2 linked regions of the Homo sapiens genome follow. The protein of the gene in region 2 purifies or fractionates together with the protein of the main gene of each other region. This does not show direct contact. Each region holds a gene or a part of one and is shown on either strand. Other genes may lie near its edges.

Region 1 (7,711 bases), on a different chromosome or scaffold from region 2:
GGAAACCTTCATGCTCCCCACACAGGAGCATGACTATAATGGCTCTATTCTAGATGCTTAATTCCCAGAGGGGAGCCTTGGCCTGTAAAGCGTACTCATAGGCTTGACAGGGAAAGTCGTAATATCAGTCCTTTCTAGCATTGGCAAGAATAGTAAAGATGCTGTGTGTCCAAAGGCCAATCTCCAAACACAGCCTCTAGCATAACACTATACAACTAGGTAGGTAACTAATCCTTACTGAAGGTGATAGCAGGAGAAAGGAGAGGAGAATGGGGTACATTAGGCTAAAGTGACAGTTTGGGGGAACTTGATCTTCCTACTCCACAGGAGCAATACTAGGTCTTGGGTCTAGAAATGGTTAATTCTTCAGCAATGCTTGCAGCCTTTCATTATGCAATATGCAGTTGTCACTCTATAAAGTCAGTCCAAATATGAATGAACACAATGAGAACCACATGACTTGTACACACAAAAAAAGAAGTCTTACAAACAATCATAGTAAAAAAGCCAGAACAACCTACAGAGAAAAAATAAAAGCTTGTAGTTTTTACATTTTGAAATAATCATACTTTTTGGAAAACAGCACTTCCCTCATTTTTTTTGTGAGATGGTTTTAAAAGATACGGAGATATCGCAAGACAAAAATACAATAAAATAACAACAAGAGAAACAACCTTATACTGTACCTTTCCTTCAGCAAATCATATGCTGTCTGACAGTCTCTGGATTCCTTTTTTCTCAAAGCAAAGTTACTTAAAAACTGATTTTTCATGTGGCTTTGCAGGAAGTTAACTTTTAATAAACCATTTCTTGCTAAGCTTTTCTTAGCACATTTACTCAATTCCATACTTGAAAGCTACAATGCATTTCAATAACTGAAATGTATGGGATTTTATTCTAATATTAAACTCAAAAGGAAGAACTGAGACAGTCCTATGGGCATATTACTGCAGCCAAATGTGATTCACGAAGGCACTGATATTCTATAAAAGTGATTTCAAATATCAATGTATATACACGACTAATGGAATATGACCTAACCAGTCAAAATAGGCTGAATCTCATTCCTGATGTTATATCAATGCCAATAAAATTAGGAATCATATAACAAAAGCATATGGGCAGAAAATAGCTTTCTCTTATGTAAAATTCAAGTGATGGTCAAGAAATAAGATGTAATACAGTGTTTCTGATGGGTCAATGGCAAAGGTCTGGAGAAATATATTCCAGGTTTGGAGTCTTTATGGGCCAGAAACTGTCTCATAATTCCTAAATGTGACCAAATGGGAGGAATATAGGTTATTGCTCACAAGAAGAAGACGAGATGGGTCAGTATGAATACATCTCCAGCGCCAGAGGCATGGGTCAGATCATAGCCCCAGGAAGGTGGCTGGTTAGTGGGAACATCTTCACATATGACAAATTTTTGCATCCTTACCTTTAATTATTCTTTGATATTCTTTTTCATCTCTGAAAAAAAGGCTATTTTAACAGAAGTTTGTAATATCAGATTCTTTTACCCACACGAAGAAAGATAAGTGGTAATGCAATGGCGGGTGATAATGCAATTATGAAATGATGATGTATATTTCATTTTGAAATGCAGTATATGTTTCCTTTTTCTTTTGCAGGAAGACAGTTCTGGGATCCTAGGAGCATCCAATTTGTATTCAGAATTTCATTTGAGTAAGATTAACATTTAAATAGTTTGTAGTCCCTTGAGCTCAGAGTACAGTGAGATACACATACACACACTATACTATCTCTCTCTCTTTCTCTCTCTCTCTTTCTCAAGCCCTGGATATCAATTCAAAATTTGTGTGATCATTGATGTGTGTGTGTGTATATATATACACATACACAACCCTAGAACTTAAAAACTCATTAAGAATCCACAAAATAGATAACCCACACAGTGATAACCTAGAGTGACTTCCTAAACTGTGGCTGCTGGCTAACCTAGTTGATAATAACAAATACAAAGTATCCTTTTAGCAATAAGAGAGTCTTTTTGCTGCCTCAGACAAAGCTTTCTAGCTTGCTCCTTGTCCTTTGGAATTCTAGGCTGACCAACACTGAGCGGAAGCCTCACCTGGGACTTCAGGAGAGAATCTTGCAGAGTGTCGAGATACAAAAAGTTTGAGTTCTTGGTCCAAGTTGCATTCAATCAGGTTTGTGTCCCATGATCGGATTCCTAGGGAGGGAAAGAAAGACAGTTGAGAGACTTCCAGTTAGTCATTTCAGAGTGGTTTGGACAACATCACTGTAATATTTCTCAGGCTTTCAGGGAGGATGTGGGAACTCCTTTTCTGAAGAGCTTGGTGGCTTAGCAGTGGATGCCCACAAAATGGGAGGGCCAGGGAGGTCTCTCCACCAGGCCACAAGGGAGGGATAATTAGCAGTGTGGACTGAGCTTCTGCCCCTCATAAAAAGTAAATGCACCTCTTCTGGAAGAGTCAAAGAAAACAGTTGTTAGGAAAATGACAGGCTGTACTCCAGGGAGGGACTAGAAAGGGCAGGAAGATGTTAGTTCTTAAGAAGCTAAGAGGCCAACAGACTAACTCTAGCTTGTAGACAGACTAACTCCACTTGTAGGTGGCAAGAAAATGTAGAATAAAGGCAAAGAAAATACACGGGGGCTGCCATTCAAGCACGGGCCTTTGTTTCTAAAATGATGTTCTGGTAGTATACATGTGTAATTTCTTTCCTTTACCAATCCCGTTTTTGACTTTGGTTTATCGAGCCCTGGATATCAATCCAAGATTTATGTGATCTTTGATAAACAGAGTGGATCCACTCAATCTTCAAGACTTGGCCTGTCTGTCCTTCCAGGCACTTTTCTGTTACCTGAGTAGCTTGGCAGGCAGCTCTTTTATTCACAATTGTTCATTGTATTCAATTTTCTTATCCAGAGGCAAAGAAAAATGGCAACTTTTTATACTTTATAAAACATTTATGGAGTTGGGGACATGAATCAGCTATTCCTACCCTAGGCTGAACGGAAAGGAAGTCCTATCAGACTTCCTTTCCCTAGGCTGAAAGGAATATCCAGGGTGAGAGGAACAGGAGGGCAAGAGGCGGGATGAGGGCAGCTTCCTGTGCTCATGCCCTACTCTCTAGCCTCTTCCTTCCTCCTCCCACTGTCCTCTTTCTCCTGCCCTCCCAAAGGGGATGGCCCAGAGGGAACCCCAGAGAGCATCATAGAAGGGAGGTCTGGAGAGTAAGCCAGGGAAAGTTGGGGAACCCCAGAACTCTGGTGTGTGTGTGTGTTTTACATGTTTACATATTATATATTACATTTTTCCTAATAGGTTGCTCATGGTGGAGCCAGTGTGTGGTATCCATCATTGTACCTTTGTATACAGCATTCTCAATTGCCAGGAACAAATCTCTAGAACAACAGACATTTATTGCATACCTCCTAAAGGTAAGGGCTTGAACCTCTAGGTATAACACAGCAGGTGAACTATCTCTAAATTAACACCCAGTCATGTAATCATTTTTGTTGGACATTAGTCATGTATACAGACTTGAAGGAATAAATAGCAGTGTGTTACTTAAATACACACTGGATCCTTAAGGCATATTTGTATTTACCCTTGGTTATATTGTATTCAGTCTTCCTATCCTGTAAAGAATCAAGGTGGATTATACATAGACATTACAAAAAAAAAAGATTCTGGAAACTCAGTTCACTGCACATCTAAAATATCTTTAGATTACACACCACAGACCTTTTCAACCAGGAGGAATATTTTCAAATAGATGTGTGTCCACTAAATACAGGCAGAAATTTCTCATATGATCAATGGGAAGAATTCAGATGTGGAAGAGTTAACGTGCTTAAGGAAAGGTCAAATTATAAGGGAGAATTTTATGGCTCTTCCTGGAAACATTAATAGCCTCAGTTTGCATTTGTGCTAATGGAGTATTTGAATTTTAACAAGAAAGGCATGTTGAGATTTCGCAGATCTTTTTAGTGCAGAAATGATAAATGGGTTCTTTTTGTTTCACAGAGAGCTTGACAGGTTGAGAGGTCTGAATTCATTAGAATATTTTACTTCAATGTATACACTATATACTAGTCTAGTGCAAAAAAATCGAGTTCCTGTCTGAGCTGCTTAATTGGTATTGTTGACTGAATTCTCCTTGTTCCAGGTCTGAGCTCTACTTTGTCTTCTACCCTGTCAAGCTGGGTCAATAAGTTAATAATGAGACATATGCATTTAAATTAAATTCATACAATTTTTCTGTCTTTGTTCTAAGTAATGTCTAAATTGGTACATTATTTGAATGACTTCATCCAGGGTTATCTGCAGACTTGCTCTTACATTGTTACTTGCCATTTTCCCTTGGCTTCAGTTAACTTGTCATGGCACACACAATTAAATGTTTGCTTTATATTTTCATACATATTTTATTTTTGACATATTTGTAATTTAGCAATAGAAAAAGTACTAAATGATAAATCCACTTAGTAATTTCTAAATTATACTAGTAAACGGCTGATAAAAATATTTCTCATTTTTACACTCCCAATGAAACTAAAAATGTAGGGTTCTTTTTTCAAGAGAGCAATTTCCACCCAAATTGTTTCTTAGCAATGCACAACCACTACTACCACTTATAAAATAAAGGTTATGTTGGATTTGCCAGCTATTTTAGTTGGAAAGGAAAATTTTGGAATCAGGCCACTTTCCATACCAATTTTAGAAATAAAATAATTTGTAATTACTTTGTATCTCCTGCTGGATAATATTGGTAAAGGCAAAGAGTAGTTGTTAATGAAGGTTCATATTGCATTTAGTAGGTTTATGTAGTTCCCCTTTGTGCCTAACAAGGAGCCAACAGTGAGCCCTCTAAAGTTTACAGGACAGAAAAATATCTCTTTGGCCCTTCCCATATTCTCCCCTCTCTGAATCTGGCTGGAGGGCATCCTGGGGTGTTGGTGAAGAGGTTCTAAAGAGGCTTTCAGAAGCAAGTCATCCTGGTCTCTGTTGGGGAGCAGGGAAGCCCTCTTTCTAATTTTCACCCCAATATACACCAAGTCAAGCTCTTCCTGGAGGCTTTGTTTCCCCAGCATTCTAAGACTGTACCCCTTCTGGGCTTACCCAGGTGGGGGCAGAATAACTCCAGGCAGTTGGAGGCAGTGAACCCCATTCTTTCAATGTCTGGAGCCAAAAGGCATCCGTCATCTCTGAGAACAATCTGGGCCTGCTCTGTGGCTATTGCCCAGCCCTGAAAGTGAGCTCCTTGGGACCAGGGAGCAACAAAAGATCTTTCCTTCTCAGTTCTCTGACCCCAGGTGGTAGCAGTGCACACAAGGGAGGCTGACATGCACATGATATACACAGATGAGAAAAGGAGAAAAGAATAGGTTATGGGGCAGGGAGGCAGGGAGGGGTCATTAAAGAACAAGTCAGGGTGAAAAATGAGGAGAAGTCAGGTACTCTTGGTGTGTACAGGCTAGATTGTTCCAAGTTTTCCAATCATGTAAGCATTTTGCAGGGTTGTTTAATGAAACCAACAATTTAAAAAAGCACCTCCCATTTAAAAGCTAAAATTCATATTTCTAAAGGTGACAGTGGATTGAAGAAAGCAAAATGAAATGACCATGCATTGTATGTTGATGGCACATGGGTTCTATCTGACAGTTATTTGGGCCTTTGGCAAGTTGATTTTCCTTTATGGGCTTTAGTTGCTCCCTCTGAAAAACAGGCTTTTGGATATTTTTTCCAAGTACCTAAATCATTAACCTAGAATCATAAGATTATATTTGTAAAACTATGCTAAAAAGTGGTCTGAAATCAGATTGAAATCATAAACTAAATAAATGAACTAAAGGAAATGCTACATTTAGGAATGCTTTATTTCTCAGAGGAAAAAATTCTTATTTTTTCCCTTGAACTCATCTTTAATTTGCTTTTTTTCTTTTTTTAAAGCCAGCAACTTGATGTTCATAACATATGTATGTAATGACGATAATATCTTACATACAGAGCTCATAGTTTCAAAGCATTGATAATAAATAATTTAGGTCTGAGATAACATCTTACAACACAAGCAAATGAGAAGTGACATAATTATTTGCTTGTCTAAAAAGTTATAACTTATTTTTTTAAAGTAAGCCCTTAGAGAAGGTGAACAATTTAATGACCTTAAATTTGGGGACTGCCTTGTGTTTCAGCATGGATCACAGAGCTGTCGTAGATAATACCAATTAAGCAGTGCAAGCAGAAATCCATCTGTCTTCGACTTTGAAAAGTATAGGCAAATATAGTAAATTTAAGACTCTCTAACATTTAATTCTCACCACATATGGTATTGGTTTCTTATTTCCCCTGTTAAAAGAAAAGGAAAACTAAACCCCAAATCTTTCCTGGGTTTTAAATTCTCTTACCATCTTAGACTGAAGGACATTCAGTTAAGTGACATCAGAATGTAACAATGTAATCAGCTAAACTTTTATCTAAAAATGCAGAGCAGTAGATGTTACATTCATCTATCTTTTCACCAACAAATCTTGCTGATTCCCAGTGTTAACTAAAGGAAAAGTTATAATCTAACGGTAATTGAAAACATCCAACAGACACTTAATATTCTTTATATGTTTTAGTTCCTTAAAAAAAAAATGAAACAATGAAAACGTTCACAAGGCTCTAGAATTCAGTTTGCAAGACACGGATGTATGTCCTCTATGTATTAAAATAAAACCAAGAAGCAGGGTTTTGCTGAAAATGAGAACCACTAGCTAAATCCATGCTGGGGGCTAATTAGGGAGGAGAAAAAGGAGGTGCCAAAGAGTAGTAGTTGGTGGTAGCGAAAACGATTTGGAATAAAGTCCTGCATAACTAAATAAATGAAGCTAGCCTAGTCCGAGGAAACACTATTGTTCCAAACTCTGGAGGAGACATGTCCAAAGCTTTCATTATGCTTTCCGAATATAGTTGAGAAAGCAAGAGGGACCATCTCTCTTCCCTGGTTTCAAGAGGCATTTACGAAGCATCCACATTGGGACGTTCCAGGCCTGTTGATTTACTGCATTACCACCATGTCTCTACAGATTTATAGATTATTTTCTAGGCTTCCCAGAGAGCCCTCAGTAATCGGATGGCAAGAATCCAAGTCGCCAGGGTCTCCAAACCCAGAATCTCAGTTAAGGCAGGAGGGGAAATAGGAAGAAAGAGTAACAGATGCGGAACTGCCTTCCCAGCCTGCAACACACAATCATCAGAGCTGGCCCCCCTGGAGCAGCTCCATCTTGCTTCACACAACAAGGCCCAAAGGCACCAAGCAACAACAGCAGTGGCCTCTGGAGGAGGCCCAGCTGAGACCTGGCGGCTGAAGCAGCAGCTTGTCGTGCACAGGAAAACAGGACCAGCCTGCTCTGTTGCTAAGTCATCTCAGACTGTCTGAAAAGCTATGGGAGCAGGATTTTCACTTAGCGCTGGAAGGGCCTGCATCTTGAGCTGCAGCCAAGACCCCAGAACCCAGGAGAGCCATCTTCAGAGGAAAAGCAGCATCTGCTACGGTGTGTAAAGAAACGGCTCTGCTCACTCACTTGGTTGATTCTTAATGGGATCAATACAGTCATTTCGGAGTTCCATGCAAAAACCTGACCAAATTAGGGAATTAAAAAATCAGGAAGCCATGATGTCTATTGCAAAGGGAACACAAGGGGGCTTCTGGGGTTCCAGTAATGTCTGTTTCT
Region 2 (7,711 bases):
GTTTTATGACCCTCACTTTTGAATTGCAGCAGTACCTTCTAGCTGGACGCTTTAGTCCAGTGGTTTTCAAAACTATTTTGTTTTGTTTTGAGATGGAGGGGTACAATCTCGGCTCACTGCAACCTCTGGCATCCTGATTCAAGCGATTCTCGTCCCTCAGCCTCCTGAGAGGCTGGGATTACAGGCGGGCGCCACCACGCCCAGCTCATTTTTGTGTTTTAGTAGAGACAACGTTTCGCCATGTTGGCCAGGCTGGTCTCCAACTCCAGACCTCAGATGATCCACCTGCCTCGGCCACCTAAAGTGCTGGGATTACAGGCATGAACCACCGTGCCTGGCCCCCGTTGTTCTTTATTTATGTTATAGGCTGTGGGTACTCCCAGCTTTACCTTTATTCACATTTTTCCTTTAGAAAAGTTTGTGTTACTTTTTGCCTGAAGAATAATCTATGTTTTATTCTTCCATCAAAGCCTACCTCATCAAGTATGTTTTCTGAGTACTTTCTAGCCTGAGATATTTCACTGAATTCCTAATGTGATATACATTTGATTATATACCATCTTTTTATTCTATTTTATTACAAAATTTTAGATATCCAGAAGATAATGAGGGCCTACTGCGATGGTGCACGCCTTGTAATCTCAGCACTTTGTGGGGCTGAGGTGGGAGGATTGCTTGAGCCCAGCAGTGGGAGGTTTCAGTGAGCTATGATTGTGCCACTGCACTCTATCCTGGATGACAAAGTGAGACCCTGTCTCAAAGAAACAAAAATAAAAATAAAAACAAAACAAAAAGAAAAAAGAACAGAGCCTAATTTAATAGATACTTAGGTATTACCATCCAGTTTAAGAAATATTAATAAAAATATTACCAATACATTTGAAGCCACCATGTGTATTTCTTCTCAATTACACTCCCTTCCCATCCCCCAAAAGGTAATCACTGACATGAATTGGATATTTGTCCTTCCCATACATGCCTTTATATTTTTAGTATGTTACATATATATGTGTGTGTGTATGTGTGTGTGTGTATGTATGTGTGTGTATATATATATGTATGTATGTACACATATCAACACATAATGTTAGGCATGGGTATTAGGCCTGGCCTTGTCACTGACTTTGAAATTTGCTTCTTTGGGCATCTTCTTCTCCTCTGGGAGTTGGAGATTCCAGTGTGTAGCCCAGTTCAAGAATCATGACTCAGAGACCTAGATGATTTTTAAGGCACCTCTCACCCTCATATTCATTGATTTGGTCTCCTTAACAAGGTTTGTGTTAAACATAGGCAATAGATGTGGTCACCCATGTCACCAACTTGAGGTACCAGAGTAGTTTTTAGATTCCTTAGATTTCGTTAACATACTTGTCACTGAGGTCTTCAGAAGTCCTTTTTTTTCTTTTTAACTTTTTTTTTTTTTTTGAGATTGGGTCTTACTCTATCGCCCTGGCTGGAGTGCAGTGGCACAATCATGGCTCACTGCAGCCTTGACCTCCCTGTGCTCAGGTGATCCTCTCACCTCAGCCTCCCTGATTAGCTGGGACCACAAGCACGCACCACCATACCTAATTTTTTTTTTTTTTAATTTGTAGAGATGAGGTCTTGCCATGTTGCCCAAGCTGGCCAAAGTCGTTATTAAAAGGATTTCCCTCTGGGAAGGGAAATTCATTAAATCATAGATCCCCAACCATTTTGGCACCAGGGACCAGTCTCGTGGGAAACAATTTTTGCACAGATGGTTTGGTTGGGGGCGAAATGGTTTCAGGATGAAACTTCCACCTCAGATCATCAGGCAATAGTTAGATTATCATAAGGAGCGTGCAACCTAGATTCCTTGCATGCACAGCACAATAGGGTTCGCACTCCTATGAGAATCTAATGCTACTGATGATCTGACAGGAGCTGGAGCCCAGAGCAAGGGCGGTAATGCTCGCGTATAGCTCACCTCCTGCTGTGTTGCCTGGTTCCTAACAGGCCATGGACCAGTACTGGTCCACTGTATTGTGCTGTAAAGGAGTTGGGGACTCCTTTATTAAATGATCATTAATTAGCATTTTGGTTAGATGGAATTTGTTGGATTTATTTTATTATTTTATTATTTTTTTTGAGGTGGAATCTTGCTCTGTTGCCCAGGCTGGAGTGCAGTGGCACAATCTCGGCTCACTGCGAGCTCCGCCTCCCAGGTTCACGCCATTATCCTGCCTCACCCTCCTGAGTAGCTGGGACTGCAGGCGCCTGCCACCACACCAGGTTAACTTTTTTGTATTTTTAGTAGAGATGGGGTTTTACCGTGTTAGCCAGGATGGTCTCGATCTCATGACCTCGTGATCCACCCGCCTTGGCCTCCCAAAGTGCTGGGATTACAGGCTTGAGTTACCGCGCAGCCGAATTTATTGGATTTTTTATAGGGGAACTGCTAGCTGAGAGAAAAATGACCACATAATAGTCCAGCTTTGATAGGTAGAAAGGTAAATGACCAGAAAACATGGGCTCTTCACCAGGTGGAACCTTCATAGAAGGGAGGTGGGTCTCTATGATAGACAGGTGGGCAGCATGAAAATATATTTAATACTTGTCAAAGAGAGGACAGAATATCACTGCTGGAGTGAGACACTTTACCAGATAGGCTTGTTCCTCAAATAGGTTATAGTGTTAGTAGTTATTTAAAATGTGTAATTCGTTGATTAAGGTATGGTTGGAGGGCAGGTTAGCATTGAACAATGAAAACACTAAAAGGATAGTAAAAGAATAAGCTATTGAAGCATACTTACTCTCAAGACAGGTGAGTTCTTTAATTTAAGCTATAGTTGGATTCTGTGGCAATTTTTTATTATTATTTTTAATAGTGTGAAAGGGTAGTTTGGGGGAAATAAAATTGAAGGTTGAAGTCATATGTTAGGGGTCCTTCACGCAAATGGAAAGCTAGAAAACACTAATTTCATAAGGGCAAATGAGTGTTTGGATGGATTACCCATCAGAAAACAGATTATTATGGAAAGAAAAAGCAAAGGGATCGGGTTGAGAATATAGAGGAGTTAAGCAGAAAGTACTCATGAATTCTTCAGCATGAAGAGCCCACATCAACTTGTAGCATCTGTAGCCCGGATCTCAGGCCAGGAATTAGGAATGGAGAGAGATAGCAGATAACTCTCAGCGCTTATGAATGGAAGTGGGTGAGAGAAAGCAACACACCAGTTAAGTAGATAGTAGGAATATCACAAAGATATTATTGCAGGGAGAAGAGGGGTGGATGTCATTTTATGTGTATATTTCTAATTTATGTTTCCTTGGAATGTTGGAAAGTAAAATTGTGTGTATATCAGAGAGATTGACTAAATAGAGAGCTGGAGTTGTCTTTGAGAAGATGAACTCTAAGAACTCTTAAAAAAACCCCAGCAGACTCAGAGGAAGGCCCTAGGGAAAATTTCCAATTCTAGAGGTAGGCAAGTGGACAAAATATTCAAAGTAGTTAGTCCAAGGGGAAAAGAACCAACCAAACAGGAGCATCTCTGAATTAACAACTTGGTCCCTAAAGCATCTGCTGTCTTCCCTTTGGCTTTTCTTGGTTAATTTAGGGTGGCATTAACTTGATTAGGATTGCTTTAGGCCGTGCTGATGGGAATAGTCAGTTGGCTCTTCCTTCTTGGAGAGAGGGAGTGCGACAATAAAATTTGCAATACTTCCGGTAAACAAACTTCTGTTGCATGTCAACTAGAGAAACTCAGTCTTTAGTTGACTCTAGGAACACTTCAGGCCATCATATATTACTGGCTTTCAACATTTAAAAAAAAAAATTCATTGATACTGAGACTCAGTACAGACCCACACATTTACATAAATGGGAGGTAGAGGTGGGACAATTGCTTGAGCTCAGGAGATTGAGGCTGCAATGAGCCATGATTGTGTGGATGCATTCCATCCTGGGCAACAGAGCAAGACCCTGTCTCAAAAACGTTCATTGGGCTGGGCACGGTGGCTCACGCCTGTAATCCCAGCACTTTGGGAGGCTGAGGTGGGCAGATCATGAGGTCAGGAGATCGAGACCATCCTGGCTAACATGGTGAAACCCTGTCTCTACTAAACAAAATACAAAAAATTAGCCGGGCATGGTGGCGGGCATCTGTAGTCCCAGCTACTTGGGAGGCTGAGGCAGGAGAATCGTGTGAACTTGGGAGGCGGAGCTTGCAGTGAGCCGAGATTGCGCCACCGAACTCCAGCCTGGGCGACAGAGACTCCGTCTCAAAAAAACAACAAAAAAAATTCATTGTTTGCATACATACCGTGAATATCGACATGAAGATTACCTTGAATTTCTGAAAGTACATCATAGGAGTATATCTTGAAAAATGACTCATAGCAAAATGAGAATTACAAAGTGTTAACATTAATGATAATTAGTTTAGGTAGTATTATTTTGAGTTCTGAATTAGTTTATAGATTTATATAATACCAGACATCTTAGTATAGAGGTGAATTGAGTAAATTTTTCAGATGTTTCTGCTATCTTGATACACACACACACACACACACACACACACACACACATTTATAATTTATAATTGGCAGCTAATTTTCTTGACTCTGTTTATGGAACCAAGCCACATAGTCTCCTGTTCTCTGTTGTGTTGCTCTGTTCTTTCTGAAAACTGGCTTTCTTTACTTACTGATCACTACTCATGGCAAAATTGGCATTCGGCCTTTACTTCATTCATTTCCTCATTTATTCATACATTCAGTAATTATTAATTGTTTTCCACATTCCAGATGCTCATTGGTGAATGAAACAGGTGGGTTCTTTGCCCTCATATAACATACACTCTTGTTGTAGCTTGAGCTATGAAAGATATAAGTAGTGTGTAGAGAAAGATGGTGAAACCTGCTTAATAGGGCAGTTGGCAGAGGCTTCTCTGAGAAGGTGATATTTAAGTTGTAACCTGACATTGAGAAGTTATCCATGTGAGTAGCAAGGGAAAAGTATTCCAGGCAGGGGGGAAAGCTATGAGAAGGCCTGGAGGTGGGAAAGAGCTTAATGTGTGGGAGGAATTGAAATGACACCAGTGTGCCTGGATTGGAGAAGAGGACAGTGGCTAGAGATGAGCTCAGAGAGATGGGCACGGATTCAATGATGCCGGCCATGGAAAGGAATTTGGATTTAAGTCAGAGCTCTGTGTGCTGTCATTAAAGGTTTTTAAGCAGTTTATGTTTTTAAAACATCCTTTTGGCTGCTTTGGGTAGAGTAGATTGTAGAGGGTTAAGAATAAAAGAGAAACAAGTTAGGAAACTATTTGAATAGTTTGTGATTTGAGATGGTAGAGTCAGTGGAGATAGAAGTTGAGAGATTTGCGATATTTTGGAGTTATAAATGAAGGACTTGCTGATAGACTAGATGTGGGGAATGAGGGGAAAAAAAGAATCAATCCTGGCTCCTATGTTTTGAATTGAAACAACTTGGGGAATGAGGAAAGACCGGGAGAACAGGTTTGGATATCTATAGTCTCTTTCTTGGAATTTCATAATCCCAAGAAAGTGAATCTGATTGGCCTAAAATGTGATATTAAGTGGTTCCTTTAGAAGAGGAAGTGGGTAGGGAGGAAATGATGCACACTGATTTCTATTTTTTTTTTTTTTTTGAGATGGAGTCTTGCTCTGTCGCCCAGGCTGGAATGCAATGGTGCAATCTTGGCTCACTGCAACCTCCGCCTTATAGGTTCAAGCAATTCTCCTGCCTCAGCCTCCCAAGCCGCTGGGACTACGGGCGTGTGCCACCACACCCAGCTAATTTTTGTATTTTTAGTAGAGATGGGGTTTCACCATATTGGCCTGTCTGGTCTCGAACTACTGACCTCAGGTGATCCACCCACCTCGGCTTCCCAAAGTGCTGGGATTAAAGGCATGAGCCGCCATGCCCGGCCTGATTTCTATTTTTATCCTATTGTTTTCACTCAGTTAGAGTAGAGAATGGAAAACATATCTAGCCGTTTTTAGGTGTTGACATGTTCAGGTGTGCTGGTAACCTGCTATTTTAAAAAAAATCTTTTTATTGCAAAATAAAACATTAGTACAGAACACATGTATGGCTTGGTGAATTATTATAAGGCAGATACCTTTGTAATCACCCCTCAGGTTGAGAAATAGATCACAGTGGCCTTTCCCTATAAGTAATCATTTTCCTGACTTGTGTAGTAATAACCCAAATGTGCATTGCTAGATACTGTAGGTTAGTCTTGATGATTAAGAAATAGTAAGTTTTGGCCAGACACGGTGGCTCACACCTGTAATCCCAGCACTGTGGGAGGCCGAGGTGGGTAGATCACCTGAGGTCAGGAGATCAAGACCAGCCTGACCAACATGGCAAAACCCCATCTCTACTAAAAATACAAAAATTAGCTAGGCATGGTGGCAGGCACCTGTAATCCCAGCTACTCGGGAGGCTGAGGCAGGAGAATCCCTTGAACCCAGGAGGTGGAGGTTGCAGTGAGCTGAGATTGCACCATTGCACTCTAGCCTGGGCAACAAGAGGGAAACACTGTCTCTAGGTTGTGTTTTGTTTGTTTGTTTGTTTGTTTGTTTTTTGAGACAGGATCTTGCCCTGTCACTGAGGCTGGAGTGCAGTAGTGCAATCTCAGCTCACTACAGCCTGACCCTCCTGGGCTCAAGGGATCCTCCTGCCTCAGCCTTCTGAGGAGCTGGGACTATAGGCATTGGCCACCATGCCCAGGTAATTTGTGTATTTGTAGACATGGGGTCTTGCCATGTTGCTTAGGCTGGTCTTGAACTCCTGGGCTCAAGTGGTCTTGCCTTGGCCTCCCCAAGTGTTGGGATTATAGGCATGAGCTACAGCACCCAGCCCAAAAAGCAGTTTTGATATGAGTTGTCACTTTTAATCTTTAGTTTAGTCCTCCATCCTTTTCCTTTTCCTGTTGGAGAACCCAGGTTGTTTGTACTAGTTTCCCAGAGTTGGATTTTGCTGATTGCTTAATATAGGTCAGTTCAACATGTTCCTTTGTCTTCTGTATTTTCTGCAAACGTGCAGCTGGATCCAGAGATGGAGCAGACTCAAGTTCGATCCCTTAGGCATTGTGATATATATATATATATAGATGGGGTTTGGCAAGACCATGGGAATATCATAATGTCTAATTGTCTTTCTTTTTTGTGATGTTAGCGGCTGTGGATGGTTAGTGGGTGTTGCAATATAATGAAATTCTAAATACATCATTTTGCTTTCATTTATTAATTGGAATGTTTTTATAAAAAGTAACTTCCCCTCATCTTCTGTTTAGTTACCCAGTGGTACTGTTGATAAAGGAAAGACAGGATAAATGTTTGATTCTTTCCTTTTATTTACAAGTTTTCAAGATAACGAATTAGTTCCCTGTCTTTCTCCAAAGGTGGCCATTTTTTTTTCTTTTAAATGCCATTATGAGAAGATGGATTTAAACATACTTGATGGATTTAATCCATTGGAATCACTTTCACTGAAGCGCAAATTGTCTCACCTTTGGTTAGTGGGAGTCTCTTCAGGAGATAACATGACCCTAGTGGTTTTTGATAGTTTCCTTGTTGTCTGCTGTGATATTTGGGGCCCATCTTGTATACTTCTTGTCCTAGATCTGGAATCATCCATTTCTCCAAAAAGCCGTGGTTTCTCTTAGTAAGAAATGATATTTCAAGATCCTAACCTGGAGACTAATATCCTAATAACTAA

What was found.
Region 1: the proteins of STK3 (region 2) and MAP1B purify together in Homo sapiens (affinity purification with mass spectrometry; 4 studies listed by BioGRID and IntAct, with this or other methods). This does not show direct contact.

Annotation. Positions count from the first base shown.
Region 1 is NC_000005.10:72,110,181-72,117,891, reverse strand, and holds part of MAP1B (microtubule-associated protein 1B), read right to left. Parts: exon of another isoform or gene 4,405-7,711; intron 2,195-4,404; coding exon 2,093-2,194; intron 1-2,092. UniProt on the Homo sapiens protein: Facilitates tyrosination of alpha-tubulin in neuronal microtubules. Phosphorylated MAP1B is required for proper microtubule dynamics and plays a role in the cytoskeletal changes that accompany neuronal differentiation and neurite extension.
Region 2 is NC_000008.11:98,815,376-98,823,086, reverse strand, and holds part of STK3 (serine/threonine-protein kinase 3), read left to right. Parts: intron 1-7,711. UniProt on the Homo sapiens protein: Stress-activated, pro-apoptotic kinase which, following caspase-cleavage, enters the nucleus and induces chromatin condensation followed by internucleosomal DNA fragmentation.